Regions from separate parts of the Homo sapiens genome. Here region 1 is linked to region 2. A link means that fine-mapping ties the variant in region 2 to the plasma level of a protein whose gene starts in the linked region. Region 2 holds a variant in brackets. A gene starts in the other region. All regions are shown on their forward strands.

Evidence for each region. A credible set is the group of variants that fine-mapping cannot tell apart. PIP is the chance, under the fine-mapping model, that this variant and not a neighbour inherited with it causes the effect. The UK Biobank Pharma Proteomics Project read protein levels with antibody pairs (Olink). The fine-mapping took linkage between variants from a reference panel, not from the people measured, so its PIPs are less certain.
Region 1: it holds the start of LAMA4, and the variant in region 2 is the best candidate, but not a certain one, in a credible set for the plasma level of the LAMA4 protein (UK Biobank, PIP 0.76).

Annotation. Positions count from the first base shown.
Region 1 is chr6:112,247,467-112,263,358 of GRCh38, forward strand. It overlaps LAMA4 (laminin subunit alpha 4), which reads right to left and starts at 7,101. Exons shown (of 39, transcript NM_001105206.3): 1 at 6,993-7,101; 2 at 6,490-6,825. The coding sequence starts at 6,684. All of the region lies in intron 2 of LAMA4-AS1 (LAMA4 antisense RNA 1), which reads left to right.
Region 2 is chr12:7,474,761-7,490,391 of GRCh38, forward strand. It overlaps CD163 (CD163 molecule), which reads right to left. Exons shown (of 17, transcript NM_203416.4): 7 at 13,013-13,327; 8 at 12,599-12,913; 9 at 12,134-12,226; 10 at 11,739-12,053; 11 at 10,336-10,656; 12 at 8,607-8,915; 13 at 8,206-8,244; 14 at 7,883-8,002; 15 at 6,401-6,496; 16 at 5,100-5,153. The coding sequence ends at 5,131. Among named protein-coding and RNA genes, the nearest start is that of CD163, 21 kb to the right of the region's middle. The variant G/A (reference allele first, on the strand shown) is at 10,413.

The DNA.
Region 1 (15,892 bases), not on the chromosome of region 2:
GTCAGCAATTTCACTTATGAATCCAAATTCTGTCTTCTTTTGAAAAAGACACAACAAAACAAAACAAAACCAGAAGACCTGGCAATGCTGAGAGGTGGCTGCCACTCTGGAAGAGGGATTCTTCCATTTCCTGTTATCGAGGCCCACCACTCACAGGATGCGTTTCTTTACCGAGCTAGATTCACTCAATTCTTTTTTACCTGGCCCCTATAAGACTCCAAGTCTTAAAACTTTCTCTGTACCATATGATCCAGCAATTCCACTTCTAGGTATACACTCCCAAAAAACTGAAAGCAAGAACTCAAACAGAGGCTTGTACAGCAATATTCATAGCAGCATTACTCACAGTAGCCAAAAGGTAGAAACGACCCAAATGTCCATCAACAAAATGAATGGACAAAACATAGTGTACATATAAACAGAGTATTATTCAGTTTTAAAAAGGAATGCAATTCTGACACATGCTACAACATGGGTGAGCCTCAAAGACATTATGCCAAATGAAATAAGCTAGGCACAAAAGGATAAGTACTGCATGATTATGTATATGGAGTATTTAGAGTAGTTAAATTCATAGAGACAAAGTAGAATTGTTGTTGCCAGGGGCTGGAGGAAGGAGTTAATCGGAAGTTATCATTTAATGGGTTTCAGTTTGGGAAAATGAAAAAGTTCTGGAGATTGATGGTGATGGTTTTATAACAATGTGAATATAGTCAATGCCACTGAACTGTGCCCTTAAAAATAGTTCAAATGGCCAGGTGCAGTGGCTCATGCCTGTAATCCCAGCACTTTGGGAGGCCGAGGCAGGCAGATCACAAGGTCAGGAGATTGAGACCATCCTGGCTAACACGGTGAAACCCGTCTCTACTAAAAATACAAAAAATTAGCCAGGCATGGTGGCACACGCTTGTAGTCCCAGCTACTCGGGAGGCTGATGCAGGAGAATTGCTTGAACCCGGGAGGCAGAGGTTGCAGCGAGCCAAGATAGCACCACTGTACTCCAGCCTGGGTGACAGAGGGAGACTCTGTCTCAAAAAAAAAAAAAAAAAAAGTTCAAATGGCAAAGTTTCTGTTATTTTTATTTTATCATGTTAAAAGAAAAGACTTCCTCTGGTTAAATCAGAGAACCCTGGAACACTAGGGAATGGAATTCTTTACTTTTTAGCAATGTTATAATAAATTCCATAACATAGACCAGGTATTCCATAGGTAATACTGTTATGAATTTCCTACTTATTAATCTAAATCAACAGCTTTTAAGATAGACTGTAGCATCACGTGGAGGACACACCCTAGAATATCATTATAAAGAGAAAATAGGATAAGGAGACTCTATAGTTGAAAAAAAAAGTGCTCTATCAGGAAGACTCCCTGGTATACAGAAAGCAGAGAAAGGAATATGAAAATTTGGTTAAGGTAATTACCACTCTTAAATGTCAATGAACTCATCTGTAAAATGGGTATAATTTTCACTATTTAGTATTAAGACAATTCATGGAGGTTGATGGGACATAGTAGAAGTCAACAAGTATTAGTTTTTTTCTTTCTTACGTGAGTAGTTTTAAAAAGTAGTCATTAGGCTAGACGGAGAAGGGAAGTTATCTCAACTTTTTGTAACTTATGCTACTCATCTAACAAGCACTGCAAAAATGGTCTTTAAATTGCATTTTATATTTCTTCATTTAAAGAAATTCCCAGCAGGGTGCGGTGGCTCACGCCTGTAATCCCAGCACTTTGGGAGGCCGAGGCGGGTGGATCATAAGGTCAGGTGATAGAGACTATCTTGGCCAACATGGTGAAACCCTGTCTCTACTAAAATACGAAAAATTAGTTGGGCGTTGTGGCATGTGCCTGTAATCCCAGCTACTTGGGAGGCTGAGGCAGGGGAATCGCTTTAACTCAGGAGGCAGGGGTTGCAGTGAGCTGAGATCAAGCCACTGCACTCCAGACAGGCAATAGAGCAAGACTCTGTTTCAAAAAAAAAAAAAAAAAAAAAAAAAAGGAATTCCCAAAACTTTGACTAGAAGTATTCCTATATATATTTCTATTTACCTAATCACCTCTTCCTAGCTACTTTTGCACAGTTGAACTGCTTTTATAAACTCCTTCCTAGCTGTGCTGCTTACAAGCAGGGGCCTGGGCAAATGCTCTGTGCCTCGGTTTCTATGTGTATCAAATGAGATAATAACGATACCAGTCACATTGATTTGTCATGAAAGTTACTGGAAATTACTCATGGGAAGTGTTTACATCAGTATCGGCATGTGGTAAGTACTCAACGAGTATCAGCTATGAGCCATACTATTATTGCTATTACCACCACTGCTATATTCCAGTTCTTCTAAAATAAGGTTTTTGAAGCCTATTTTGGTGTTTGGCAAGTAAGTTTTGTGCCCTACTGGTCTAGCACAGGAATAATACTTTTTTCACATTACCTCCATGGCACTTACCTTGTAGCCACTCTTATAGAATGTTAGTACATTGTTCTGTATATAATGGCCACTTATTTTTTTTCTCTCTTCAATTGCTCACCCCTGAGGGCAAAGATGAGACTATACCTTCTTTCTATTGCTCCTTGTACCTATTTTATTGCTCTTTCGAGGTAAGGCTCCAAACCAGCTTGTTGGGTGAATAAATGAATGAAATAATGACTGCATGTAAGGGGTTCAGATTACCTAATTGAATTGTTGGAACAGCAATGTAGAGTGATAACCCAGGCTAGCAACTGGAGGTCTTAGTGTGATCTCAAGGGACCTTTTTCAAAGCAAGTGACCAAGATAAGAAAAAAGAAAGCAGATGGTTAAAGAGATCTAAAATGTTTTTATTAAACATTCTGCAATCTTTTAATGGCAGGACCCTAACAATGTGCTGGGACATGGGGTCACGTATCAACAAGGAAAAAAGTCAAGAGGAAAAGTCCCTCAGAGTTAGTCTGCTTTATAGAGTTTCTTTTTAGCAAGTCAGTTTTTCCAGTGTAAGGTATGTTCATGGGCACTGATCTTCTTGGAGTGAAGTTAACACAACAATAATGACAACAATAGCAAAACTGAGGTTTCTAGGAGAGAAATTCCTCTTTTCCCCTCTGAGGGGCAACTCATTGACAACTCAATGTTGTCAATTGTATCCCTTATTCTATCATTTATCTGTGAAAGCCAGTAATAGCACCGTCACCTCCTCCACCACCTTCCACCTTGCCCTGTCAGAAGAGTCCTTGCCTTCTCAGTTTCTCAGTCTCTGTGTGGCTTCTTTCCAGCCACACAATGTAACCTCCAACCTCATGTTCTTGACCTTGTTTAGTTCCTACTTCTTTTTGATGGACAAGAATCTCATTCTTCCTAAGGACATTCTGTTACTGGCTTCTTGTGGGGGTGTTCCCATCTTCATTCCTGCCCCCACACCAGTTCTTTTCCATATCTACCATATCTATATTGGTCAAGAAGAGTTTGGCCTAGTTTTTCCTGCTATAGTGTGTGTGGTGGAATGAATAGACTTTCTTTTCCTTAATGTGAAATATTAGAATACTGATTATCATTATTGAAACTGCCCAGTCTTCCCTTTTGAGAATCACCTGTTGAGAATCACTGTTCTCACCATAAACTCAGCAATAAAGGACTCAGTAGATTAAGTGTCAAGAAGCAAAGGTGGGAAAATCCTCCCCACAACTAGTACGGAGTTACCCACAGGTGCTCTTCTTTTCAAATACTTTGCATCTGGGGGGAAGCTTTGGCTTGTTTTACAAGGAAAAGAGGAGACTTCCTTTTTGGTCAGCCAACAATCTCTATCCTTTTATTCCGTGCATATTTCATGTATTTGTTCCCCAGCTCACATGGAGCAATACAGCATGCCAGAGTTTGTGTCTTGGGCCAAGTACTCAGGGATGGAGAGTCCACAAGCTGGGCTATTGAAGAGCTTAGGAGAACCTCAGGAAGGCCTTCAGCCAAGCACCTCCCACTGCTCCATGCTTGCCTTAATATTTTTCTTCATTCCCTCTGAAGGAGAATTGCAGAATAACCATTCATATAAATCCAAGTAAAGAGAATGTATTTTTAGAATATCTTCCCATCCACACATTGAACCTCTCCCATGAATAATGTGTCCGTGTTCTCTTTCTCTCTCCACATATACACAAATACAGTCTCCTGAGCCAACCCAGTAAAGTGTTTGTACCATGTTATTAAGTCTCCGGAATGTATTTGGTTTAAGGTCTGGTTACTGCTATAAAGAGCATGGGAAACCTGATGGTGGGGCGTTGGGATCGCCATGGGACCGCAGGCTAACTGGAGGCATTATGTGAAACTATGCAGTGGGAACATAATTACCTCAATCTCACCCTTTCTACACCATATACTTTGACCTTCCTGGAATGACTAATATCTTCTTTCTGTTTTTCAAAACTGAAGGCCTCCACTGGCATTCTGAACCTATTAGACTCTGACATTACTACAAATTTAATTCACTACGTGACATTTTTTTTCCAGCTGGAAGAATATAGATAAACAGATATAATAATATTAAGTAAAAGAAAACCATAAACATAAGGTTCTAAGGAATATTCTCAAATAAGGGTTTCTTTTAATCTGATCATCATCCACATTTTTTATAGTAACAATTGTAACAACTCTTGGCATATATAGGGCATTTATACTATGTCAAGCACTATGCTAAGCACTCTATTTTATCTAATTTCATTACAATAAAAGTATGAGGTATGAAGCAGGCATCAATAAATTCTGTCAGTATCAGTTTATCTGCAGTCTGGGGATCTGTAACTTGACCAAGGTCAAAGAGCTTGAAATTTCAACTTGGGACCATCAGACTGAAAACCTGCAATCTGAAACACTTTGCTGTGCTGCCTTCCTATTATTTCACCAAACATATGAGCACATAAGAAATTTCCTAGGGTCTTAGCATTAATTTTAAGGTTCTCTAAAACTCAAAAAATTACTTTCCTATTTTTTTTGTGGGATGAGAGTTACAAAAAACAGTTGTATATGGCTTGTCTCTTTAGACCTAACAGATACAAATACAGGATGCCCGGATAAATTTGAATTTCAGATGAACAATGAAAACAAATTTTAATATAAATATGTCCTCTGCAGTATTTGGGATGTGATCAAAATTCATTCATTATTTATCTGAAATTCACATTTGAGTGTCCTGCAATTTATCTGCCAATTTTACTCTTAAGTAAAATTAAGCATTTCATTCAGGGACTTTACGTGCTCAAAGCAACAGGTGGAGATAATGCTTCCCTGGGGTTAATTCCAAGCCTGTAGAGAAGCAAAGCCTTCCCATTGCATGAAGTCCCTCCTGGTCTGGCTTCTCCCCAAGTTTCTGGGTATGAAGTTGACCAGAAGCCATGCTCCCTCTTTTTCATGGAGGCTACATTTTATACCACAGTGAGAGGTTGGCATATTCTGACCCTGTCCACTCTCTTTTTTGGGGCAATGTGGGTAGGGCTTACTCTGAAGAAGGACCATGTTCATGCACCTTATTTTTAATCATCAATAATTAATAACTATAATTGTACTAACAATTAACAGAATTCATAGCAATAATCCATGCATCAGTGATGTTAGAAATGGTGTCAATCCACATAACTGTTTTAGTTGTACAGTTGCTGTAACCATAGCTATAGAGTGTGGTGTTTGTTTTGCTAGGTCAATTGCTCCTTCCTTTCCCATGAACTTAGGTGACTTTATTTTCCTCCCTCTTAGCATGTCCCATGCAATGGGCATGCTGTTGTCTGTTTCAGTTCAGGGGTTCTTAAATCACTTGTTCTGGATTCATTCTCCTTTACCAGACCTCTACATTCTGGTTTTGTTTCCAACTTAAAAGCTATTGTAAGGTATTCAAACAGCAGCTCTTTGAATAAACATATTATCAATAGCATATCCTGAGGCTTGATTTTAATGGAAACATCTTGTTTCTGGAATACAATGGCTCGTTTCTACTTAAGATACCCTCTCAGCAGTTGTCTAACAGCTCCTTTCATGACCAGCCACTCTCACTCACCCCCTCACCTTCCCTGCTGCAGAAGACTTCTTGTCTAATATGAGACAAAAAGATCCTGCAGTAGTGTTCCCACTGTCCTAACAGCACAGAGGAGCAGGAAGCCAGTGACAGGGCACACACGTTAAGTGCCGTGGCTTGACAAAATGACTACTGGGACACGCAAGTGGCAGAAGTCACCGATGTGCTGCTGCAGTCCCCGGTGAGAGTCTAGCGGATGAACTCAGAGCACCAACACATGCACTCTCACCCCTTTGAGCAGACACATTCCGAAGCCTCAACTTTCAACTCTCAACATCCAAATGCAACTTACAAAGGAAAACTCTTTATTTCAAGTTTCCGAACTGACCTAGCCCAGGTGAAACTCTCAAGGCACTGGGGAGAGGAAAGAGGCGGAGAGAGAGAGAAGGACGAGTGTGGCACAGCCCGCGGGGGCGCAGGTGCCCCAGCAGGGTGGCAATGGCAGGGACACTGTACCTCGGCCGCAGGCGGCAGGCGTCCCAGAGCCACGCGGGGTTCGCTCGTCTCAGGCGGGTCTTGCCTGCCAACCGCTGAGCTCCCTTCAATGTCAAAAGGAAAAGCGTTGTCGTCCCCGGACGCGGCGCGGGAGCAGGCAGCGCTCCAGAGGAGCCACAGAGGCAGAACCGAGCGCCAGGCTGAGCTCAAAGCCATTTCTCCGCTGACATCCAGTAGTGCTCTTCCAGGGCTCGGGCGCTGTGGGTCTCCGTAGGTCTCCCGCGTGGTGCGGCGGTGCCTCGCTTATTTTCCCTCCTCTCCGTGTGCAGTATCCCGAGGTGGCTGCGCAACCAGCAGCTTAGGAAATAAAGGGAAAGTGCGAGAGTAAGGGAGAGTTCCAGCCTCTCTCTCCCTCTCTCTCTCTCCCCTTCTCCCCCTCTCTCTCCCTCTCCCTCTCCCTCTTTCACTTTTTCTCCTTCCCGCAGAGGTTCTGGCTCAAGAACCTACAGATGGACGGAGCTTACAGTACGGCATCAAAAGGCAGACGGATTGGGGTGAGCCCCGCCAGCGCTAGGCCACCTCCTCTCCCTGGCCGTTCGGGACTGGGGACTGCGCTGTCCTGGCTTCCTTCTCACATTCATTCTCACCACTCCCTTTTTACCTTCTACTCCCAGGCCCTCCCACTCTAAGCTGGCTTTTCAGACACTGAGGTCCGCCTTTCCCTGCGGTCTTCCCTCCCCTCTCAGTTTGGAGCCCCTCCAAGGGCTCCAGAAGAATATTCAGCTTTTGTGACGCTTCCTCACCACTCTTATTTATGTAGTCAAGGTACCGGATGTCTTATCTATATTTACATAGATATTTTATGTGGCCCCCGCTAGTTTGCAGGAAAGTGGGTGGAAAAGGGATTCCAGGGCAGGAACCAAAGGTAGATGATCTCTGAAGGCAGAGGGTCAGGGTGCCCACTTTCTTGAGCAAGGTTTCTCGGGTTTTTTCTGGGGGATAGACTGTTGCACTCTTTGTGCTAATATCTTCTCTTCAGATTCACTGGCCACCCCTCTTCCTCCCTCCAGTCCTCACCCAGAGGGCTTGGGAGAAGAATATCTTTCACTGCAGCGCTGGAAAATGACTTCATTACCCAAATGCATGAACTTTTATTTACAAAGACCATCTTGTTTTCATCCTAAAGAGGTGCTTTGTAAGGGGCCCGGAACAAGGCTTGCAGTGTATGAGCCTGTCAAGTATACTGCCTACAGCCCCGGCCTCTTCCTCTTGGCCTGTAATCTCATGCCTACTACATCTGTCTGAATCATGTAACCTTTCCAAGACTTCAGGGTGAAGTTGGGCTACAGCTATGTCAGGGGTGCCCCTGTGGATGGGATAGTGTCTGCAACAGCTGATAGGTACCTTTGTTTACATTGGCTTCATAACGAGCTCTAAACATTTCCACAAGATCCAACCATGGTTTAAAAATGGTCAGATGAGACAACCATAAAATGACACCCAGGTAAGCTTCCAGGTGAAATAAAGCATTTTTGTATAACCTAATCATAAAATAAATAAATAAAGCCTTTCCATAAAACCTAATCATTAGCTCCATTTCATAGAACAAAAGTCATTTTATCTAAGTGTAAGCAAAACCATTTATTTTGCACCTAACATGTGCCAGATACTTGGCATATGCTATTTGTAAACCTCAGCATTCCTGCAAAGTAGTACCATTATTTTCCTTTTACAGAAGAAGAAAGTGAGGTTCAGAGAGACTAGGACATTTGCCCAAGGTCGCACAGCTGGTGGAAAGCAGAGATGGGGTTTGGATCCAGGCCTCACTGATTCCAAAGCTCTCTTTTACATCTGTATACACGACACTGCAACTTTAAAATAAAGAGTATGAATTCAGAGGTGAAGGAAATGGACACTTTTATTTTTTGAGTGCCTCCCATGTGCAAAAAAATCACATAAATTGTCTCATTTAGGGCTGGGCGTGGTGGCTCATGCCTGTAATCCCAGCACTTTGGGAGGCCAAGGTGGGTGGATCATGAGGTCAGGAGTTCGATACCAGCCTGGCCAACATGGTGAAACCCCGTCTCTACTAAAAATACAAAATTTAGCCAGGCATGGTGGGAGGCGCCTGTAGTCCCAGCTACTCGGGAGGCTGAGGCAGGAGAATTGCTTGAACCCGGGAGGTGGAGGTTGCAGTGAGCAGAGATTTTACCACTGACTCCAGCCTGGGTGACAGAGAAAGACTCCAGCTCAAAAAAAAAAAAAAAAAAAAAAAAAAAAATTGTCTCATTTAATTTCATCTTTATGATAATCTCATGAAGTAGGGATTGTCATACACATTTGGCCATGGGTAAGTGGTAAAATTACTACTATAGCCCAGGTAAATCTGATGGTAAGATCTTTGATTTTAAATGATAAAATTGTATGATACAAAAGAACCAAAGCCAAAGGAAGCAAAAATAATTCCTATAGGTTTTAAAGTGATATTTTGATTTTAAAATATTAAAATAGTATTGCAAGGGACTATTAAGCTAAATTATGATACTCTTCTTTTACATAGACTTGTTAACCTACTAAATTAAGTGGGAGAAGTTAAAAACATGTTTGGTTTAGTTGAGAGACTGATATTGGGAAAAAAGATAGCCAGACTCTGAGACAAAACAGATTATGCTCAGTTATACTGACCCAGTCACCCTTTAAAAGAACATTAAATAATAATAATATTAATTATATATGATGTATATTAAATATTCTGACTTCAGATACAGATCTCTTCAGCTCACCAAAACTCATATATTTGTTTTCTGAAGGATTTCATCTTGTTCTTTACTAGCTGCCAATTAATCACACACTTTTTAATTTAATCTGGGCCCTCTTCTGTCTGCCTGCCCAGTGCTGGTAGGAGTGTATTCGTCCAAGACCTATGGACTTCTTATTTTTGGTTAAATATGTGCTCCCAGCTCTTCCTCTTCATCTTCTTTCTGTGGGTACTATTATTGTTTTTGAGACAAAATGGCATAATATGCAGGGGGATGGGTTTTGTATAAAATAAAACAGGGTTCAAATCCTGGGTCTGCATGTAGTACTTTTGGGAGCTTGGCATGTAACTTAGTCCCTCTGAAAGTTTCCTTCCCTGTAAAATGGGCATAATGATGCCTTTTTGTCATAGGCATTTCAACTAGAGCAATTCCATCTTGAATAGGGGCTGGGTAAAATAGGACTGAGACCTACTGGGCTGCGTTTGGAGGAGGTTAGGCATTCTAACTCACTGGATGAGACAGGAGATCAGCATAAGATACAGGTCACAAAGACCTTGCTGATAAAACAGCATGCGGTAAAGAAGGCAGTCAAATCCCAACAAAACCAAGGTGGTGACCTTGGTCGGACTCACTGCTCATTATACGTGAATTATATTGCGCTAACATGCTAAAATACACTCCCACCAGCACCATGACAGCTTATAAATGCCATGGCAACATCAGGGAGTTACCCTATATGGTCTAAAAAAGGGAGGAACCCTTAGGTTCCCAGAAATTGCCGACTCCTTTCCCAGGAAACTCATGAATAATCCACACCCTGTTTAGCATATAATCAAGAAATAACCATAAAGATAGGCAATCAGCAGCCCTTGAGGCTGCTCTGCCTGTGGAGTAGCCATTCTTTTATTCCTTTACTTTCTGAATAAACTTGGCTTTACTTAACTCTATGGACTCGCCTGGAATTTTTTGTTGCGTGAGATCCAAGAACCTTCTCTTGGGGTCTGGATTGAAACCTCTTTCTGGTAACATTTTCACTGAATTATTATGGGTAGTAAATGAAAGAATATAAATAAACATTAACACAGACTAGCATGTAGTCAGAGCTCAATAAATACTATTTAATTATACAATAAGCCCCCATTTAACATTATCTATATGTTCTTGGAAACTGCAACTTTAAGCAAAACAACATACAATGAAGCCAATTTTACCTTAGGCTAATTGACATAATTAAGATTTATTTAAATTCCTATGACATAGTTCTGGTCACAAAAACATCACTAAACTTCTAAAGAAAGACCAAAATGCTTCTAATGGTAAATATGAAAATAAATGTGAGCTATACGTACATTTCAGAAAGATTAATAGAAACAAGTGTGAGAATTATTTACCCAATGTTTGGTGAATCAGTGAGTGACAGCAGTCATAGTGGTGGTGGGTTAAAGCAAGGAATAAATGTTTTAAAGCAAAAATTATAAGCACCTCCTACCACCATGCAATTCAAAAAAACCCAACAACAAATATGATGGGCTCGCTGAACGCTTCCATGCAGCATCATTTATTGTCATATGCCTGTATGATTATTGTAGACTTCATGAATTTTTATTTGATAACAATTTTTGTTCATTATTCAATCATTTTCCAACCTGCTTTTTCCAACTCAGAGTGTTGGGTGGCTGGAGCCCATACTGGCAGCTCAGAGTTCAAGCTGGGGACCCTGGACAGAAGGCCATTCCATTGCCGGGCACGCTCACACACACACAGCCACACTCACTAAGACTGGAACCATGCAGACGTACCAAGGAACGAGGATATCTTTGAGATGTGGGAGGAAACTGAAGTACCTGGAGAAAACTCACGTGAGAACTTGCAAATTCCACACAGACAGTGGCTCCAGCCAGGAATTGATTTTTTTTTTTTTCTCACCAATATTATGACAAAGCAACATTGAAAGAAACAATGTTATTCTGGGACCTGCCTTACTATATTTTCAAATCTTAAAGAAGAACAAAATGACTATTGTAAAAGAGGAAAGGCAACCATTTTATTTATCCTGGTGTAGGTAACCTCCCATGTTTGAGAATAGCCATTCACATTTCTGGCTGCTACTGGGCCCTTCCTTGCATTAACCAGGAATGAGGCAGTCATGGGCCACAGAGTCATAGGTCAAGCAGATGAGGAGAGAGCACGGCTGACTAATTTACAGCAAGTTAAAAGGCAGCAGAAACCTTTGGTGAGTTACCTCCTCACCAAAGGGCCACTCCTTGACCACCAAACACCTGAGTGTAGGAGGATTTTATTCCTGCCACAAGGGCAACTGGGAAGCATTTCTAGTGCGGCTGCTTTCTTATCACGGCTCTCCCTTTCTCTCCCTCCTGGGATTGAGGCTTGGTGTTCACCCAGTCTTTTCATGGCTGTCATCGTTTTCGGGACACCTATCTACCCCGTGATGACAGGGGTGCTGCTCCATCATCCACAATGCATAGAAGACAGCACGGACATGCAGAGACGCTCACAGTGCCTACAAGGACACTAAGCCCGTTAGTACAAAACGAGGGCCCCCACACCATCCAACTCCCAGACCAATACTTTCCCAACTAGGCCGAGCTATTTTTGGTTCTGGCAGCAGCAGATCTGATGATTTTGAGGTTTTATCAAAAGAAGCTTCTGGAATTCCCTTTTGAGGACCCTAGTGTGATAATCAGCAGATAAATATCAGGGCTGCCTACCCCTTCAGAGCTTGGCTGTTAGACCTGTCCTCAGCATCCAAAGCCCTAAGGAGGGTGTTATTAACACATCCCATGTGCCCTTCTGTAAATAGAAAGTCACGTCAGATGCTATTTTGAACTTGTAAGTGCTAATCTTGACATAACTAGACAGAGGATTGTTGTGGGGACTGTGTACTAGTGACAATAATTTTGTGATGAGATGAGTCAGAGAAGCAAGTATGAACTATCCCCCACCATGAGGTCTCTAACTGGCACTCAAGTAGCAGGACCAGAAAGTGTAAGATGGCGTCTCTTTTTTTCTGCTGATCCTGCTGTCCTCTCAGACCAAGATTCCCTTCTATGAACGACTCTGGTGGATGTTCAGTCTCTGTGAGGAGGAGCAGCAGCGAGAGTGCTAGGAGGTGAATAGGGTTTAAAAGTTGTTCTTCCTGGCTGGGCATGGTGGCTCATGCCTGTAATCTCAGCACTCTGGGAGACCTAGGCAGGCGGATCACCTGAGGTCGGGAGTTCGAGACCAGCCTGACAAACATGGAGAAACCCCATCTCTACTAAAACTACGAAATTAGCCAGGTGAGGTGGTGCATGCCTGTAATCCCAGCTACTCGGGAGGCCGAGGCAGGAGAATCGCTGGAACCCAAGAGGCGGAGGTTGCGGTGAGCCGAGGTTGAGCTATTGCGCTCCAGCCTGGGCAACAAGAGTGAGATTCCATTTCAAAACAAAAAACAAAAAACTTGTTGTTTCTTCTGTTAGTTTTCTCAGGCTTTTGCCCAGGACATGAATAGTATGTGCTATCTATGCTTCCTCTGCAGTCATAGACTCATTTGGCTTTTAGTATATGCTATCAGCATTCTTCATCATTCATTCTTTCATCCATCCATCTATTCATATATTATTTATTTAATCATCATTTGTTAAGTAGCTCAGTACACCAGGTTTAGATGCTGAGGATAAAATGCTAAAGACATTATTCTGTCAAGTGTGTTAAAAAAATATTTATTTATTTATTTATTTGTTTTGAGACAGAGTCTCACTCTTGCCCAGGCTGGAGTGCAGTGGTGCAATCTAGGCTCACTGCAACCTCCACCTCCCAGGCTCAAGAGATTCTCCTGCCTCAGTTTCCCGAGTAGCTGGGATTACAGGCGCATGCCACCACACCCGGCTAAATTTTGTATTTTTTAGTAGAAACAGGGTTTCACCATGTTGACCAGAGGCTGGGCTCGAACTCCTAACCTCAGGTGATCCTCCTGCCTTGGCCTCCCAAAGTGCTGGGATTATAGGCGTGAGCCACCACGCCCAGCTGACTGTCAAGGAGTTTTTTAAGAGTCTGGTTGGACTCTGTAAGGAATGCAATGATTAACAGGAGTTCAAAGAGAAAGTGCAGAAATGCTTCTGATAAAACATATCGAACAAGCCTTTTATCCAGATGCACTTCAAATAGGAAGTGCAGAAAGGCTTCTGATAAAATATATCAAACAAGCCTTTTACCCAGGGGAAGTCAGAGAGGCTTGAGAAGAAGAGAGCAACCGGGCTGAGTCTGAACTGATGGGAGAAGGGGAAGGATGGTGCTCCAGAAGTGAAGTGCAGATGCAGAAGGACAGACAAGTCTGGGCACAGTGGCTCATGCCTGTAATTCCAGTATTTTGGGAGGCTCAGGCGGCGGATCACCTGAGCCCAGAAGTTTGAGACCAGCCTAGGCAACATGGTGAGACCCCATATCTACAAGAACAAAAAACAAAAAAAAACCAAAAAACAAAAACCCCAAATATTAGCCAGGCATGGTGCTATGTGCCTGTAGTCCCAGCTACACGAGAGACTGAGGTGGGAGGATCACCTGAACCTGGGAAGTCAAGGCCGCTGTGAGATCGCACCACTGTACTACAGCCTGGGTGACAGAGTGAGAGCTTGTCTTAAAAAACTAAAATAAAATAAACCAGAGGAACAGACACATCAGGGAACATGATGCCATGGGAGGGTGAGAAAGCCATATGATTTCTAGTTGCTCTCTGAGCCCCGCCAACCGTTCACAGGGTACCGTCCCTGCTGTCAGGCCCACAGAGCCTGCAGGAAAAGAAAGAACTTCCCCAGCCTCCTACTGCTCTCTCAGCACTGCACACCAATCCAGGCCCAGTAAGTAACAGAGGATCCTTCCCCATTGCAAATCTGAACACTGGGAGCTGTTAGGCCTAGTATTTACACCCTGAGCAAAAACCCAATAAAACTGATGGGAGAAAGAACAACTTTTAAAAGGCCTCCATGCCTCTCCTAGCACCCTTGCTGTGCTGTTGCACCTCAAACAGCCTGAACTTCCACCAAAGTCAGTCATAAAAGAGAATCTCCATCTGAGAGGAGAATCAGCAGAAAAAGAGACACTGTCCCTCTTAAACGTTTCATTCCTACCATTGGGTACCAGTTAGGGTACAGGGTGGGGGAGAGCTGGTGCTTGCATCTCTGACTGATCTTACCATAAAATTGTCTTCACTGTTTTTTAGGTGAATAAATTTAAGTGTAGAAATGACATGATCATATTTGCATTAACTTTATTTTTTTTGTTTTGAGACAGAGTCTTGCTCTGTTGCCTGGCGCAATCTCAGCTGGCTGTAGCCTCTGCCTCCTAGGTTCTAGTGATTCTCCTGCCTCAGCCTCCCAAGTAGCTGGGATTACGGGCACACGCCACCATGCCCAGCTAATTTTCTAATATATGTAATTTTTAATTTTACTATAATTACTTTATCTGGTACATTTAAAATTTTATACAAAAATTAGCTGGGCGTGGTGGCATGCACCTGTAGTCCCAGCTACTCAGCGAGGCTGAGGCAGGAGAATCACTTGAACCTGGGATGTGGAGGCTGCAGTGAGCCAAGATCATGCCACTGCACTCCAGCCTGAGCGACAGAGCGAGACTCCGTCTCAAAAAAAAAAAAAAAAAGAAAGAAAGAAAAAAAGGAAAAGAAATTACATGTATCACAAAAGGTGGAAATAATAGTTACCAGAAATCATACTATTCTGGGGCAATAACTTACAACACTGAAAACGTTTTGGTGTAAATACCTTCAGACTTTTGTGACATCTATATTAATGTGACCCATCTATTTTTATATTTTATATATTTTATTATATATTATATATATGTTTTGTACGTATTCATTTTGTCTATTCCATCTATTTTTTTTTTTTTGCAAAAATGAATCCAACTGTACATAATATATTTCAACTTTTTCTCCATGTCAGTGTAACTCCAGTATGTTACCATGAATAGCTTGCAGTGTTCAGATTTGAATTTTGGGAAGACCTCCTGGTGTGGATGGGGCCTGGAATTGAGGACAGTGCTAAGAGACCAGTTAGGAGGCTGGGAAAGCCCTTGCTTCTCATGCAAGCTCTGTTAACCCCAAGGGCAGGGACTATACTCATGAACTGGGGACTCAGGAAGCTTTTGGGGATGATAGTAGCAATGATTGGGTTGGCCTGATGGAGAGTGAAACAAACAGATGAGAGCATGGTCCTAACAAGGATTATTGACCAGCCTCTGCTGTGGCCATTCCTTTAGGTCTAATAGGATAATTACTTCATCAGCAATAAAGGAAAGTGATGGATGCTCCCGGTAATGTTTTCAATAGAGAACAGCAGGTGTCAACATCAATTAGCTCAGTTGATGAGATCAATATAACATAGGAGCTCCTGGGACCTGTTAATGAAATGATATAATTAAGAAGAATGGAACAACTTTCAAAAAAGGAGGCCTAAGAAACTGACTTTTGTGTCCGTACATCCACCCCCACTCCCAGTACCACAAAGGAACTATCCGTTAAGAACAGGATTGCTGTCAGCATGGTGGGAAGATACACAGAATGAAATGTTAAAATCTGTTCTAACCTGCTCTGTGTGAGCAGCTGCAGAAACTAGTCTGTGAGATTTTAACTCAAAAGCTCTATAATGGAA
Region 2 (15,631 bases):
CCCTTCAAAAATCAATCAACCCAGGAGCTGGTTTTTTGAAAAGATAAACAGAATCGACAGACCACTAGCCAGACTAATAAAGAAGAAAAGAGAGAAGAATCAAATAGATATAATAAAAAGTGATAGAGGGGATATCACCGCTGATCCCACAGAAATGCAAACTACCATCAGAGAATGCTATAAACACCTCTACACAAATAAACTAGAAAATCTAAAAGAAATGGATAAATTCCTGGACACATACATCCTCCCAAGACTAAACGAGGAAGAAGTCGAATTTCTGACTAGACCAATAACAAGTTATGAAATTGAGGCAGTAAGTAATAGCCTACCAACCAAAAAAAAAAAAAAAAAAAAACCATGACCAGATGAATTCACAGCCAAATTCTACCAGAGGTACAAAGAAGAGCAAATACCATTCCTTCTGAAACTATCCCAAACAATAGAAAAAGAGAGACTCCTCCCTAACTCATTTTATGAGGTCAGCATCATCCTGACACCAAAACCTGGCAGAGACACAACAAAGAAAAGAAAATTCCAGGCCAATATCCCTGATGAACATTGATGCGAAAATCCTCAATAAAATACTGGCAAACCAAATCCAGCAGTACATTAAAAAGCTTATCCACCACAATCAAGTTGGCATCATCCCTGGATGTAAGGCTGGTTCAACATATGTAAATCAATAAACGTAATCCATCATATAAACAGAACAAATCACAAAAACCAAATGATTGTCTCAACAGATGCAGAAAACGCCTTCGATAAAATTCAACAGTGCTTCATGCTAAAAACTCTCAATAAACTAGATATTGATGAAACGTATCTCAAAATAATAAGAGCTAATTATGACAAACCCATAGCCAATATAATATTGAATGGGCAAAACCTAGAAGCATTCCTTTTGAAAACCAGCACAAGACAAGGATGTCTTCTCTCACCACTCCTATTCAACAGAGTATTGGAAGTTCTGGCCAGGGCAATCAGGCATGAGAAAGAAATAAAGGGTATTCAAACAGGAATAGGAACTCAAATTATCTCTTGTTGCAGATGACATAATTGTATATTTAGAAAACCCCATTGTCTCAGCCGAAAAACTCCTTAAGCAGATAAGCAACTTCAGCAAAGTCTCAGGATACAAAATCAATGTGCAAAAATCACAAGCATTCCTATACACCAATAATAGACAAGCAGAGAGCCAAATCATTAGTGAACTCCTATTCACAATTCCTACAAAGAGAATAAAATACCTAGGAATACAACTTACAAGGGATGTGAAGGACCTCTTAAAGGAGAACTACCAACCAGTGCTCAAGGAAAGAAAAGAGGACACAAACAAATGGAAAAACATTCCATGCTCATAGATAGGAAGAATCAATATTGTGAAAATGGCCATACTGCCCAAAGTTATTTATAGATTCAATGCTATTCTCATCAAGCTACCATCGACTTTCTTTACAGAATTGGAAAAATCTACTTTAAATTTGATATGGAACAAAAATAGAGCCTGTATAGCCAAGACAATCCTAAGCAAAAAGAACAGAGCTGGAAGCATCACGCTATCTGACTTCAAACTTACTGCAAGTCTACAGTTATCAAAACAGCATGGTACTGGTACCAAAACAGATATATAGACCAATGGCACAGGACAGAGGCCTCAGAAGTAACACCACACCTCTACAACCATCTGATCTTCAACAAACCTGCCAAAAACAAGCAATGAGGAAAGGATTCCCTATTCAATAAATGGCGCTGGGAAAATTGGCTAACCATATGCAGAAAACAGAAACTGGACCACTTCCTTACACCGTATACAAAAATTAACTCAAGATGGATTAAAGACTTAAACATAAGACCTAAAACCATAAAAACCCTAGAAGAAAACCTAGGCAGTACCATTCAGTACATAGGCATGGGCAAAGACTTCATAACTAAAACACCAAAAGCAATGGCAACAAAAGCCAAAAATTGACAAATGGGATCTAATTAAACTAAATAGCTTCTACACAGCAAAAGAAACTATCATCAGGGTGAACAGGCAACCTACAGAATGGGAGAAAATTTTTGCAATCTAGGCATCTGACAAAGAGCTAATAACCAGAATCTACAAGGAACTTTAACAAATCTACAAGAGAAACACAAACAACCCATCAAAAAGTGGGCAAAGGATATGAACAGACACTTCTCAAAAGAAGACATTTATGTGGCCAATAAACATGTGAAGAAAGGCTCATCATCATTGGTCATCTGAGAAATGCAAATCAAAACCACAATGAGATACCATCTCACACCAGTTAGAATGGTGATCATTAAAAAGTCAGGAAACAACGGATGCTGGAGAGGATGTGGAGAAATAGAAATGCTTTTACAGTGTTGGTGGGAGTGTAAATTAGTTCAACCATTGTGGAAGACAATGTAGCAATTCCTCAAGGATCTAGAACCAGAAATACCATTTGACCCACCAATCCCATTACTGGGTATACACCCAAAGGATTATAAATCATTCTACTATAAAGACACAGGCACACATGTTTATTGCAGCACTATTCACAATAGCAAAGACATGGAACCAACTTAAATGCCCATCAATGATAGACTGGATAAAGAAAATGTGGCACATACACACCATGGAATACTATAGAGCCATAAAAAAGAATGAGTTCATGTCCTTTGCAGGGATATGGATGAAGCTGGAAACCATCATTCTCAGCAAACTAACACAGGAACGGAAAACCAAACACCGCATGTTCTCACTCATAAGTTGGAGTTGAACAATGAGAACACATGGACACAGGGAGGGGAACATCACACATGGGGCCTGCTGCGGGGTGGGGGCAAGGGGAAGGAGAGCATTAAGACAAATTTAAGCTCCTAATGCATGCAGGGCTTAAAACCTAGATGGCGGGTTGATAGGCACAACAAACCACCATGACACGTGTATACCTATGTAACAAACCTGCACATTCAACACATGTATCCCAGAACTTAAAGATTAAAAACAAAAAAAGAATCGTCATTTTTTAAAAGCACCCTCATGTGATTCTGAAGCAGTTATTCAGCAGTGATTACTCTTTCAGGGAAAAGTAGTTCAATTATCATTTATCACATCAGAAAACATTCATATGCTTCAGATTATAAATCAAATATTATTCATGGTTCTCAGTTTACAACACTAGAATTTTTAGCTTCTTTATGCACATATGAATGCATAATTTTATAGATGTAAGCATTGTATTTAATTATAGCCAATACATAAATGGAATATTATTATATTTTATAATGATTTTTTCTTTTTTAGTTGCCTAAACCGTCATTTTTCCAGTCATTACTCCATCAATTGGCATTCACTTTGTTTCTAGTTTTTGCCACTTTCAACAACATGGCAGAAAGGAATCTTTGTATATTTGTCATTACATACTAGTGACTTTATTGGTAAGAAGAAATTCTCAGGGATAGAATTATTGGGTCAAAGGGTCTGTGAATCTTTGAAAATAATTTTTAATAGAAACTGCCAGATTGCTTTCTCCAAAGGCTACCTACCATATCTCACACTTCCAAAAGCAGTGTTTGAAATGGCCTTTTTCTCTGTATTCCCGCCAGTAATAAATATTGATGGTATTTCAAATTTTTGTTAGTCTGATTTGTATAAAGTGATAGCTCATTGTTAATTATAATTTCAATCCTCCAGACATTTAAAAATGTCTGTCATTTGAAATTCATTTTGTGTCAATTGTCTTTTCATAGCTTTGCCCAATTATCTATTAGATGTTACACATACACATACATACAATTTACATTCACATATATTAACCCTTTTGTGCTCTGTACAGTTTCTAAGAACTCTATGTATCTATGTGTGTATATATATAGTATGTAAAATTAGCTCTGCATTTTATAGATATTCACAATTTATATTTCATGTACTTTAAGAGTTCCAACTCTTATCCTTTGTCTTAATCTATATTTCGTATATACAAATATTCTGTAGTGTCTTGTACAGTCTTTACCATAGCATGTATTATACAATGTAGATATATAATATGTAGATGAATTATAGGAATATATAATATTTCTATAAAAAATACTTTTTCTACATTTCATTTCTAGATGTAGTCTTCCCCAAATTATTATTTTAAAAACAGAAAATGTATCTAGTAACTCATTTCACAATCTTTTTCTCTTGATGTATAGCTTAACTATACGTCTTGTTCACATTTGAATTTTTTTTTATGTTTTTCTCATGAAAGCAAGTTGTAAAATGCAATTCTAATCATCTTGTCTCATCTGAAACTTTCAAAGCTCATCATCACCTCTTCAACAGACCCCCAGTGAAAGAGAACATAAAGTATAGCAGGTAAGACCATTCATTACAGGGCTCTATGCAGCCTTTTCAGCTTAGATTCTAACCACCTCTCTTCTCTCCACATGGCCTCTTCATATTACCACCTATAGACTATGATATCTTTTATTAAACAATCATGTCTTTGCCAATAGTAGATTTTATCTCTATCTTCAGTGCTCACGGTGCCACTTGTTACCATAAATACGTTCAATATACGTTTTTGAATAAAAAACTTCTTATAGTTCCCTAAAGGCATGGTTCTTTTTTCTGCCTCTAGTTTGCACATACTGTGTCCTTTCTTTGGAACTGTCTATTTTTCAGTTATTTTTAAAGTTTACCTTAAATATCATATCATCTTACAACAACCCCAAAGTTTCTTAGGCAAACTTTCTGTAGTGCCTTGTACAGTCTTTACCATAGCATGTATTATACGATGTAGATGTATAATATGTCTTATCTTTTTCCTGAAATGATACCTGTAATGTCTTCAAAAGATTAATTTGTATTTGTTTACTCAGTTTCTCCTTAGCTCCATGGATGTGTTATTACTATTTGTGTGTATAATTAAGAGATGAATCAGTTATATTTATAAGCTTTTATATATTCTCAATATAGATATATACATATACAAACATATGCACATAAGCAAATAAAATATGTTTATATACATTCTTTCTTTCTAATGCCAGAAGAGCTCTCAGTCCTCAAAAGGAATGCAGCTGTTTTGAACAATGACTAATAAATTCTCATCACTCACCTCACTGGGTTATAAATTCCCATTTTCCTTTTCAGTGTGGCTCAGAATGGCCTCCTTTTCCATTCCAGAAATAGGAAGAAATTTAGACACAGAAATTAGTTCAGCAGCACTGAAATCAGCTGACTCATGGGAATTTTCTGAAAGGAAGAAAATAATTACTGGGAAATAAACCAGACCTCTTCTCACGTAACTGTGAGGCTCTTTGAGCAACTAAAAACACCACCCATAACTAGGAAGAAAAGCATGTGTGATTTAAGGGGCAGAGAAAGTCTTTCCTATTTCTTAAATATGTTTCCTGACACAGTAACAGTACATGTTCCTTAAATATGTTCCCTGACACAGTAGCAGATGCATAATTCTTTGGATGGAAGAAGTGAGGCAGGCCCCTCTCAGAAGGTCAGGGACCCTTCATGGAGTAAAGACAATGGGTTTTGGGATATTTCTTCCAACCCAGTAAAGTCATCCTGCCCAGATGCAGAATTAGTGCACTGGTGCTAAATAGAAGTTCAAGGATAAAACAGCATGATGTGATGAGAAATAAGGCTAGTTCTGTGGATTTGTATGGCTTCTCATGCAATAAAGATATTGAAAGTTTAAGGTTTTAGACTTTTAGGGAAAAATATAATAAATATCAAGCTAGAGAAAAAAAATGACAGGAAATGGGAATGGAAGAAACTGTGAAAGACGTATGTAGGTCAGAGGATACAAAGTAGCAGATACGTAGAATGAACCAGTCTAGAGGTCTAATGTACAACATGAGGATTATAGGTAATAACATTGTGCTGTATGTAGGATTCATGCTAAGTGAGTAGGTTTTAGCTGCTCTTGCCACAAGAACAACACAAAAAAGGGTAACTATGTCAGATGATGGGTGTGTTCATTTGCTTTGCTTTAGTAAGCTTTTTACTATCTATATACATCCCATAAAATCATGTTGTATACCTTAAATATACACAACAAAATTTAAAGAAAAAAGTTAAACTGTCACTTATGACAATCTTTTGTAAGATTAATTTCTGTTTTAATAAAATGAGGTCCAAGTCATAATATTCCTCTGCATGGTTCTTTCCATACCTCTATCAGGAATAATCACAGGCCTCTTAAGCTAAAGGCCTCCCTATGATTGCAATTTTGATATTCTCCAAGAATAATTTTCAGTCATTCTTGTCCATTATATGCATCTAAGCTTCCTATTACATTTTTAGACTTTTTTAACTGTTTATCAAAGTAGAATGTCTGTGCCTCAACTGCAGCCACTGATCTGAACCCCTGGGCAATAGACCCTCCAAGAACCCACAGACCTGAGGAATTCATTAGGTCCAGATCATCTGCATTCAGGCAAGAATTCATCTCCCGGTATTGAATTTGGTGGACTAAGTTCTCTCCTCTTGAGGAAACTGAAAACAGAGATCCCTAGGTTAGGGATCAGCTATCATAATAAAATTTCCCTTGCTGTAAGTGTGTTTTTTCCAAGCGCTGCAAACATACCTCGTCTTTATCCCTGCTATTGTTTCTATCCCATTCTACTACCAAGCTCTTCCCTTACAATTCCGCACACTCAAATGAAATAGGCACAAGGCTAAATCTTCCCCACTGCCATTGTATTAATATAAACAACCCACTGTTTTTACCCAAGGAAGCCAGCAGTCTTCCATAACTCACTGGAGCTTTTCTTAAGTATCTCTAAAAGTCTTTCCTCTCCCCTCCATTCTCACTATATATGTTATAGTACTTTTCATTTTTCACCTCAACTGTTACAAAATGCCATTCCTGTCAGTCAAGTGGTCCTCCTTCAATCCTCCTAGATCCCGTTGCCAAAAGATCTTCCTAAAAGATATCTTGACCATTTCACTCCCCTACATGATACTCTTTAATGACTATGAATCTTATGTGAAACATAAGAACTTCATAATTTGTGCCTTTTCTCTTCTTCAGACTTAGCAGCCTCTCTCCTCACACTCAACTTTTCTCCCCCCGCCCCTCAGGAAAAAAACAAGAAATGCTTCATCCTTTAGGCTTCTCTAGACTTGTACATATTCTTCTCTAGAATGTTCCTCACCCAATTCTCTGAGCCTCTATGTTCGAAATTTGTCCCCAAGCCTCTTTGAAGCCTCCAGTAATCCCCCTCCCCTTTCAGTTAATTACTCCCTTCTCTGTGCCACTTTTGTTCCTTTTTCCTATTAATGTAAAATGGCTACATTGTAGTGTATTTGTTTACATATATATCTCTTCCACTAGACTTGAAGTTCCACCAAGATTTATTGTCCATGTCTGTATCTTCAGAGCCTAATACATTGCTCAACAGAACAGTAAAATTTGTAATAAGGAGATTGATTATAGTAAGAGAAAATAAATGTTTAGGTAAAAAGTCATCCTAAACAATATCTAACATATTCATTCTGAACTTTCAATTCTGTAATGTTCCAGTTAAGCATGTAGATAGAACACAGGAATCATCAATGCAACCTAAACCCCTTTTCTCCTCTGAAATCTTATTCCCTCTATTTAAAAAATGAAAAAAATCTGTAGAAATGGGAGCTCCCTGTGTGGCCCAGGCTGGTCTTGAACTCCTGGACTCAAGCAATTCTCCTGCCTCAGCCTCCCAAAGTGTAGGGATTACAAGTGTGAGCCACTGTGCCTGGCCCTTCCCTCTGTTTTGAGAAACTGCTCAAACCTCTTTTAGAGTCCATCTTTCTGGCCATTAGACTTGAGTCTAATATTTTCGTCTTACAAGAACCCCCTTATCCTGTAGACATATTAGATAAACCAAATTTGGCTCAAACCTGCAAGCCGCTGTCTCTGTCTTCGCTTTTTAGTCAAGAAGAATAATGCGACGAAAATGGCCAACAGAACAACCCCAAGGATCCCGACTGCAATAAAGGATGACTGACGGGATGAGCGACCTAAGTAAAAGTAAATATCAAGAGATATGATCATGTCTTATCGAAAAGATCAAGGTCCCTAGTTACTGATTCTCTCTTAGGTCAAATACTTGATCCCTGAGGTAAATATCAAATCCTCAGAACGTCTGACCTAAAATTTCTAAACAAGAAAAATTCTATGTATGCAGATAATTGGTCTCATCATCATAAACTCCATGATATACCTGTTGTGGCTTTTTGTGGGGTTTTCTGCACTGAAATATCTGTAGGAGAAAAGAAAGAGAGAGGGTTAATTCTTTGCATGATATATAGAACAAGCCTTCTGATTTCCTTGTCTGACCCCTTAGTACCTCTCAACCAAGTATATGACTCTTTCCCACCTAAAACTAGAGTCCTCTAGTCTTTCTTTCTCTGCACAGGGAATATAGGTTGTATGTGTCTCCTTGGTGAAGGCCGTTGTATAACAATTGTTTTCATCATTCTTTCAGTAGAGACATTATGATTCTCTGAGAATCCCCACCAGATCCCTGTGCTGATAAATCCGGTTTTTACACAACACACATCACTGCCCAACCCCTCTTTGCTGCCAGAGATTCCAAGCTCAATCCAGGCTTCTGGCACTTACCTGTGCAATTCACTGCAGCGTCTTCCTTGTGCCCACACTCACTATGGCCCCAGCGTCTGGCAGGACAATCCCACAAGGAAGACTCATTCCCTTTGCACTTCACTTCATTGAGCCATATCGGTCCAGTCCCCTGACCAAACTCTGCTTCTTTGAATGCTTTCAAAGCTGGACCACAGCCAAGTTGTTGACACACCACCTGAGCATCGTCCAAGTCCCAAGAGTCATCACACACTGTCCCCCAGGAACCTCCATGCCAGATCTCCACACGTCCAGAACAGGAAGTGGGTCCTTCCTGAAGTCTTATCTTGTCTGAAAAATCAGAGACATGTAGCCTATTTCTAAGACTTCTAAAAGTTTCCAGGAGTTCACAGGTGAAAAGAGAGATTTGAAACTTAAAAAAAAAAAAAAACTATTTAAAATTTTACTGAATGTGCATATTAAAATTTATATATATATATGTATATATATATATATATTTTTTTTTTTTTTTTTGAGACAGAGTCTCGCTCTGTCACCCAGGCTGGAGTGCAGTGGCACAATCTCGGCTCACTGCAAGCTCCGCCTCCCAGGTTCACACCATTCTCCTGCCTCAGCCTCCCAAGTAGCTGGGACTACAGGCGCCCACCACCACACCCGGCTAATTTTTTGTATTTTTAGTAGAGACGGGGTTTCACCATGTTAGCCAGGATGGTCTCGATCTCCTGACCTCGTGATCCGCCCACCTCGGACTCCCAAAGTCCGATTACAGGCGTGAGCCACCGTGCCTGGCCTAAAATTTATATTTTTACAAAATTTATCTTTTATAAGAGGACTTGTCATTACAGCCAACTAGGTATATTCCATCCTGCACATAAGATACATAATGTGACCCAGTAAATGTTAAATGATTAAAGTTAACATTATAAATATGTGATGTCAAATTCTTTCAAATAGGCAAGATCTTGGGAAACTGGCAGGTTGTCACAAATCTCACAGTTTAAGAAGATGTAGAGGCCAGGCACAGTGGCTCACACCTGTAATCCCAGCAATTTGGGAGGCCAAGGCGGGTGGATCACCTGAGGTCAGAAGTTCAAGACCAGCCTGGCCAACATGGGGAAACCCCATCTCAACTAAAAATACAAAATTAGCTGGGCATGGTGGCTCATGCCTGTAATCCCAGCTACTCAGGAGGCTGGAGCAGGAGAATTGCTTGAACCAAGAAGGCAGAGGTTGCAGTGAGCCAAGATCACGCCATTGCACTCCAGCCTGGGGAACAAGAGCAAAACTCTGTCTCAAAAAAAAAAAAAAAAAAAACCTGTAGAATGTGGAAATACTTCAGAATTGATCTTTCTGATTTCTGACTGCTTTTCTCCTTATATTAGTGTAACAAGATAATATTTGAAAGAAAAATGGGAAGGTAAGGTAGACCATTCAACAGTCAAATATTAAACCACATATTCTCTCCTCCTCAGAGAAAGCAATTGAATAAATCTTTCAAGCAGACCATGGGGAGTATGATATTCTTTAGAATAATAATAGCTGATCCTGAATATCTACAGGCCAAATTAAATAAAACCAGTTACACTATCCAGGTAGAATAGATATTACCCACAAGTTACCCATTCTTGCTTAATTCAATCTAACAATTTAAGCCAGTGTGAGAATAGGAAAATAAAATCCAGTGTCCATTATCAGAAGATGATAGCGGGGCTGCAGAATGGAATTTTCATATAGGTCGATGGATACTCACTGTCACATGTGATCCAGGTCTCCTCCGAGGGGCTGGCCAGTCTCTTCTCCCATGGAGATGATGGGCACTGCCACAGC[G/A]TGTCAGGTCCTTTTGGACACTGAACATTGTCCACCCACATGGGAATGGACATGGCCTTGTCTAAAGATGCAGGGTTGATTTTCCCTTTGTCTGCACAGCCCAGCTGCCTGCACACCACACCCACAGTGGTTTCAGACATGCTACTCTTGCCAACAGTGCCCCAAGCTCCATTGTAAAAAACTTCCAGACGCCCTGCACAGGCCTCTCTGCTGGCTTCACTGGTCAGTCTCAGAGACATGAATTCTGCAGCGAAACATAGAATTAGTAGTTTTGCATCTTTTCTGAAGATTCAGAGACTCCTTCCCTTTACCTTGATGTAAGAATGGCTTTAAAAATAGGTACAATAGTACAATATGTCAGTTACTAATAATTCGTTAGTAACTTCTGGATGATTTCATAGATATTATTAAAATATTTTATTTATTCTATAAATACATTATAGTTTTTTGGTCTTTGGTTTTGGACTCAGAGTCCTCTTTAGATTACCCTCAATCATTCTAATAGGCTTTTTTCAGTTACATAGTTTGGATTTTTTCCCAAAAATATTCTCCTTTTTTTGCAACTGTCTTTGATAGTTAAAATTGTTAGACACTCAGGCACTAAAATCAATGTTTTGTGTACATCTCTTAAAATGACAGTTCATTTGCTGACACTTCACAGTTTTGCAGTGCATGTCTTCTACCAGATTTATGTCATTAAAATAGGAATAAATCACTTCTGAGATACAGAGTTTTTCACTTCCTTAAGTTACTGAATCATAGTTCTGTTCCCCATAATACATATGAAATAGTACATTTTTAAATTTCAGAATGTTTTCTAAAACTCACCATGTATACAAAGCAGTATGAGGGCAGTAACCTCATGCTACTTTTTGTTTCTATGACAAGTAAGTCTCATTTATCTGCCATGAAAAATTGCTTGGGCATAGTAATTATCTTTTTTTCTGTAGAATGATGCAACATATATATTTCTTCTTGTCCCTTTAAATCTACTTCTTTACTAATACTGTAATTATCAAGTGTTGCTATTGGATCGCTATCTAATATCTGGCCCCAAATATATTTATTAAAAACCTTCATTATTAACTTTGTTGTCATTTTCATGATATACAAGACCATTTCTGGTCTTTTCTCTTTACAATGTTGCACTACCTTGCTCATGAAGTACCACTAGCACATCAAACCCAGACTTCTGTTGTCCTGACTCCCACAATAGTTCCTTTTGGATCAACTTTTCAGGAAAATCTTTAAGATTAATACCCCTCACTACCCTTCCTCAGTCCTTTCTCTATGTAATTATGACCAAAGGTCATATGCATAATTTACCTGAGCAGATAACTCCCGCATCCTCCTTGTGCCTGCAATTTTGCTGCCCCCAGCCGTGTGAATGGCACTGCCAAATGCGGGATTCTTTTCCATTGCATTTCATCTCATCCAGCCAGATGGGCCCTGTTCCTTCCCCAAAATGAGCAGAACCAGTGGCATTAATGGCCTCTCCACAGCCCAGCTGTCTGCAAACCACGTGGGCATCACTCAGGTCCCAGCTGTCATCACAGATGGTGCCCCAGGAGCCCTCATGATAGATCTCTACTCTCCCAGCACAGCGACCTCCTCCATTTACCAGGCGAAGTTGACCACTCTCTGCAAAGAGAAATGAAACTATTAATAATGAGCATTCCACTTGTTATTAATATTTTCATAGATTTGTCACAGAGTCTTACCTATGCAGGCCACAGCACTTTCTTCTGGAATGGTAGGCCTTGTTGGGCCCAAAGACGATGAATTGCACGAGGACAGTGTTTGGGACTGGTTTCCTGCAAACACCAAGGTACTCAGTCATACAAGACACAAAAGGTTAGGGGAGTCAGATGAAATGTTATATGGATGAGTTGAGGACAAACATAGCTTAGAGAGAGAGGGGAAGGTGGATGGTCAACAAGTTTGAAATAAATCAGGTGCTTTGAGATGGGCTTGGCACATAGTAAGCACTGGATAACTAAGAAGTCCATCAAAATTAGGTTTGCTCACCCTCTGAAAAGACAAATGAGGTTAATATTCTGAAGCATGAATTAGTATTCATTCTTCTCATGACCCTTCAAAATGGATCACTGCGTTTTACTTTTGTTCTTCATCCCTATGTACACCTTCTCTTAAGACCCATCACTGGCTGCCCGTCATCCTCTTACCTGAGCAGATTACAGAGGCCACTTGCTCTGAAGGACATAATGAAGCACCTAGAGCAGTTACAGGACAATCTCCCATGTGCTGCTCAGTCCCAGTGCAGTGAAACATATGCCTCCAGATCTGACCATTTCCTTTTCCAAAACGTGCTCCTCCTGGGGTAGAAAGGGCAACTCCACATTTAAGCTGCTGGCAAAGAACATGGGCATCTTCTATGTCCCAGTGAGAGTTACAGAGGGATCCCCAGGCACCAAGCGTTTTGAGCTCCACTCTGCCCTCACACGGGGTCTTGCCATTCACCAAGCGAATTTCTGTGTATCCTGGAAGGAGACAGGGCTTTAGAAAAAGACAGCTATGACTCCCTAACCCTGTCCCTTTCACAGTATGAGAACCAATTAAAGATGTTTTCTGGGTCTTACTTGAGCAGACTACTCCAACATCCCTGCTGTGGCTACAAGTTCCTTCTGGGCGGGGTGCTACTGGGCAGAGTGAAAGATGGGACTCATGTCCCTCACACTGGAATTCTTCAGCCCAGATCTGTCCATTTCCCTCTCCAAAGTGAGCTCCCCCCAGGATAGAGACAACTGTGCCACACTGTAATTCCCTGCATAGAACGCTGGCAGCTTCCAGAGAGAAGTCCGAATCACAGATGGAGCCCCACGTGTCACCATGCTTCACTTCAACACGTCCAGAACAGGGAATGTCCCCTCCAACCAGTCTGGGTTCCCTGTGGGCTGAAAAATAAATATTATTTCAGTGAGAGGTAATATGATTTCCAGATTTCCATTCATGATGAGGGTGAAGAAGGTGGTGTGGAGTGGGAAATGGAGACCAGGGTGCTCAGTGATTTCCTACACTTGTTTGTCTTGGCTTTTCTGCCTCGAGTTGGGTATGGATAAATCTAGACCTCCCCATTCCTAGCTGAACTCATCCATCTGAGAGAATTCTGGGACTTCACCTTGTGCAGCCAACCATCCCCAAAGGCAATGATAACTCTGTTCTTCCAAAATTTTGCTTACTTTATTCATAATAACATTAGAGACCACAAACAATGTGTATCTACTATCGCTATCTCTTAGTCTTGCACTCATTCCTCCATGTACTGCAATCTGGGGTCTGCTCAACCTTTTTGAATTGTTCTATGTAAAGCTTTTCAATATACTTCTAATTTTCAGAATGAACATCAGACTTCTTCCTTTTGACGTCTGTTACGTTTGGTATACGTGACCCTTCTTGTCCCATTTTCTCCTCCATTCTTTCTGACAGTGCTTTATCAAAACATTTCGTGTATTCCTTGAGTCAAAGTTCTGTCCGTAACCTTCTCATCTGCTCAATGGACATGTCTCAACTGCTAATAAATATATTTTCATCCATACTTTTTTCTTTAATTTTAGATCCACAAACGTATCTGCTTAGACATGTGGAGCTTAAAGTATTCAAAGTTGAATGAATTATTGTATGACAAGCCCACTATATTCTTTACTTAATTAATGATATACAGGCCAAATTAGAACCACCTAAAATTGACCCACTTTATCTCACCACAAATAATGGTAATAATGATAGCAGTGAATATTAAGTGAGCGTCTATTATATTACATATATGGCATTCCAATAAGCATTTAACAAACATTATTTCATTCAATCCTTAAAATTGCCTTAGGAGATAATTGTTAATATCATTCTGATTTTACAGACAGGGAATCTGAAACATAGAGAGGTGAGGTGTAGTAATTTGCTAAGGTCACACAAGAAATTACTACAGAATTAGTAAGAGAACAGAATTTGAAGCCAGACAGTATATTCCAGAGCCTAGAATGTTGACTTTCATGATACATTGAACATGTAGAAAACCACCATATCTGTTGGTCCTCCAGCATATTTCTTCTTCTGCATATTTGTTGCTATTGCCATAAAGTGATTTGTCATCATCTGTCATGCAGACCTCTACAATAGCTTCGTAAATTGTTTCCTTGCTTCAAAGTCTTTTTTCCAAGAAATTTATGCCATGATTATAAATATATTAATAAATTTCAAATATTTTCATGTGATGTTTTTCCTTTAGATGACTTAACGTTTCCTTAAAATGTATGCAATGATCCCTTACATAATTTCTTATAATTTCTGTAATAATCATGTATGCAATAATTAATCCAAAAGTATCAATGTAATGACCTATAATGTAACAACCTGTAATGTTCTCTGACTCTATTTTAGGCATTTGATGATGGGTGGGTTAAAAAGGCCGCCACAGAATTCAGTCTGTCAGTGAAGATAGATAATACTAAAAATAATAATCATAATCATATTAGCTAACATGTATTTATAGCTCACTGTGTAATTCCTGTGAGGTAGGCCCTATTACCACTCCCATTTTTCTTCTGAGCAAACTGCAGCACAAACAGTTTTCATAGATTCCCTAATTTCGTCCAGCTATTAAAATTAAGGAGAGGTGATAAACACTAATTCTTTAGTACACTTTAAAATAGTATGCTGTTACCTTAAAAGCTTTAATATCTATTACTTTATCAACCTAATTTGATGCTCCAGCCTAAAGATGCTTGGGCATGCCGTAATTTTCATGCTTCTGTGCCTCTGTAGAAACTTTTCTCTCTACTTAAAATTTATTTCCCTACCTTATATACCTAGGAAAAGGCTACTTCTTTTCAAGGCTGTTCAATTTCTCACTAATAGCCTTCTCCTCCATGAACACAGTTCACTACAAGATATACATATTTTAATAGTGATGAACCCAAAAATAGAAATATGTATTAGACATAAAACTAACAAATAAAGGAGTCATTCACTCTGTTTTAGACTATGGGGGAGAGAATAACATAGATCTAAACTGGATCTTGAAAAAAGATGAGGAGTTTGCCAAATACACAGTGTGTGAAACAATCTTTAAGGAATATGGTCACGAAATGCATGGTGTCATTGAAGAATTATAAGTAACTTACTGTAGCTGAAATTTAAAATATAAAGAAAAGACACACCAGAAATAATAAATGGAATTTATATTATGAAGATGCTCTTTG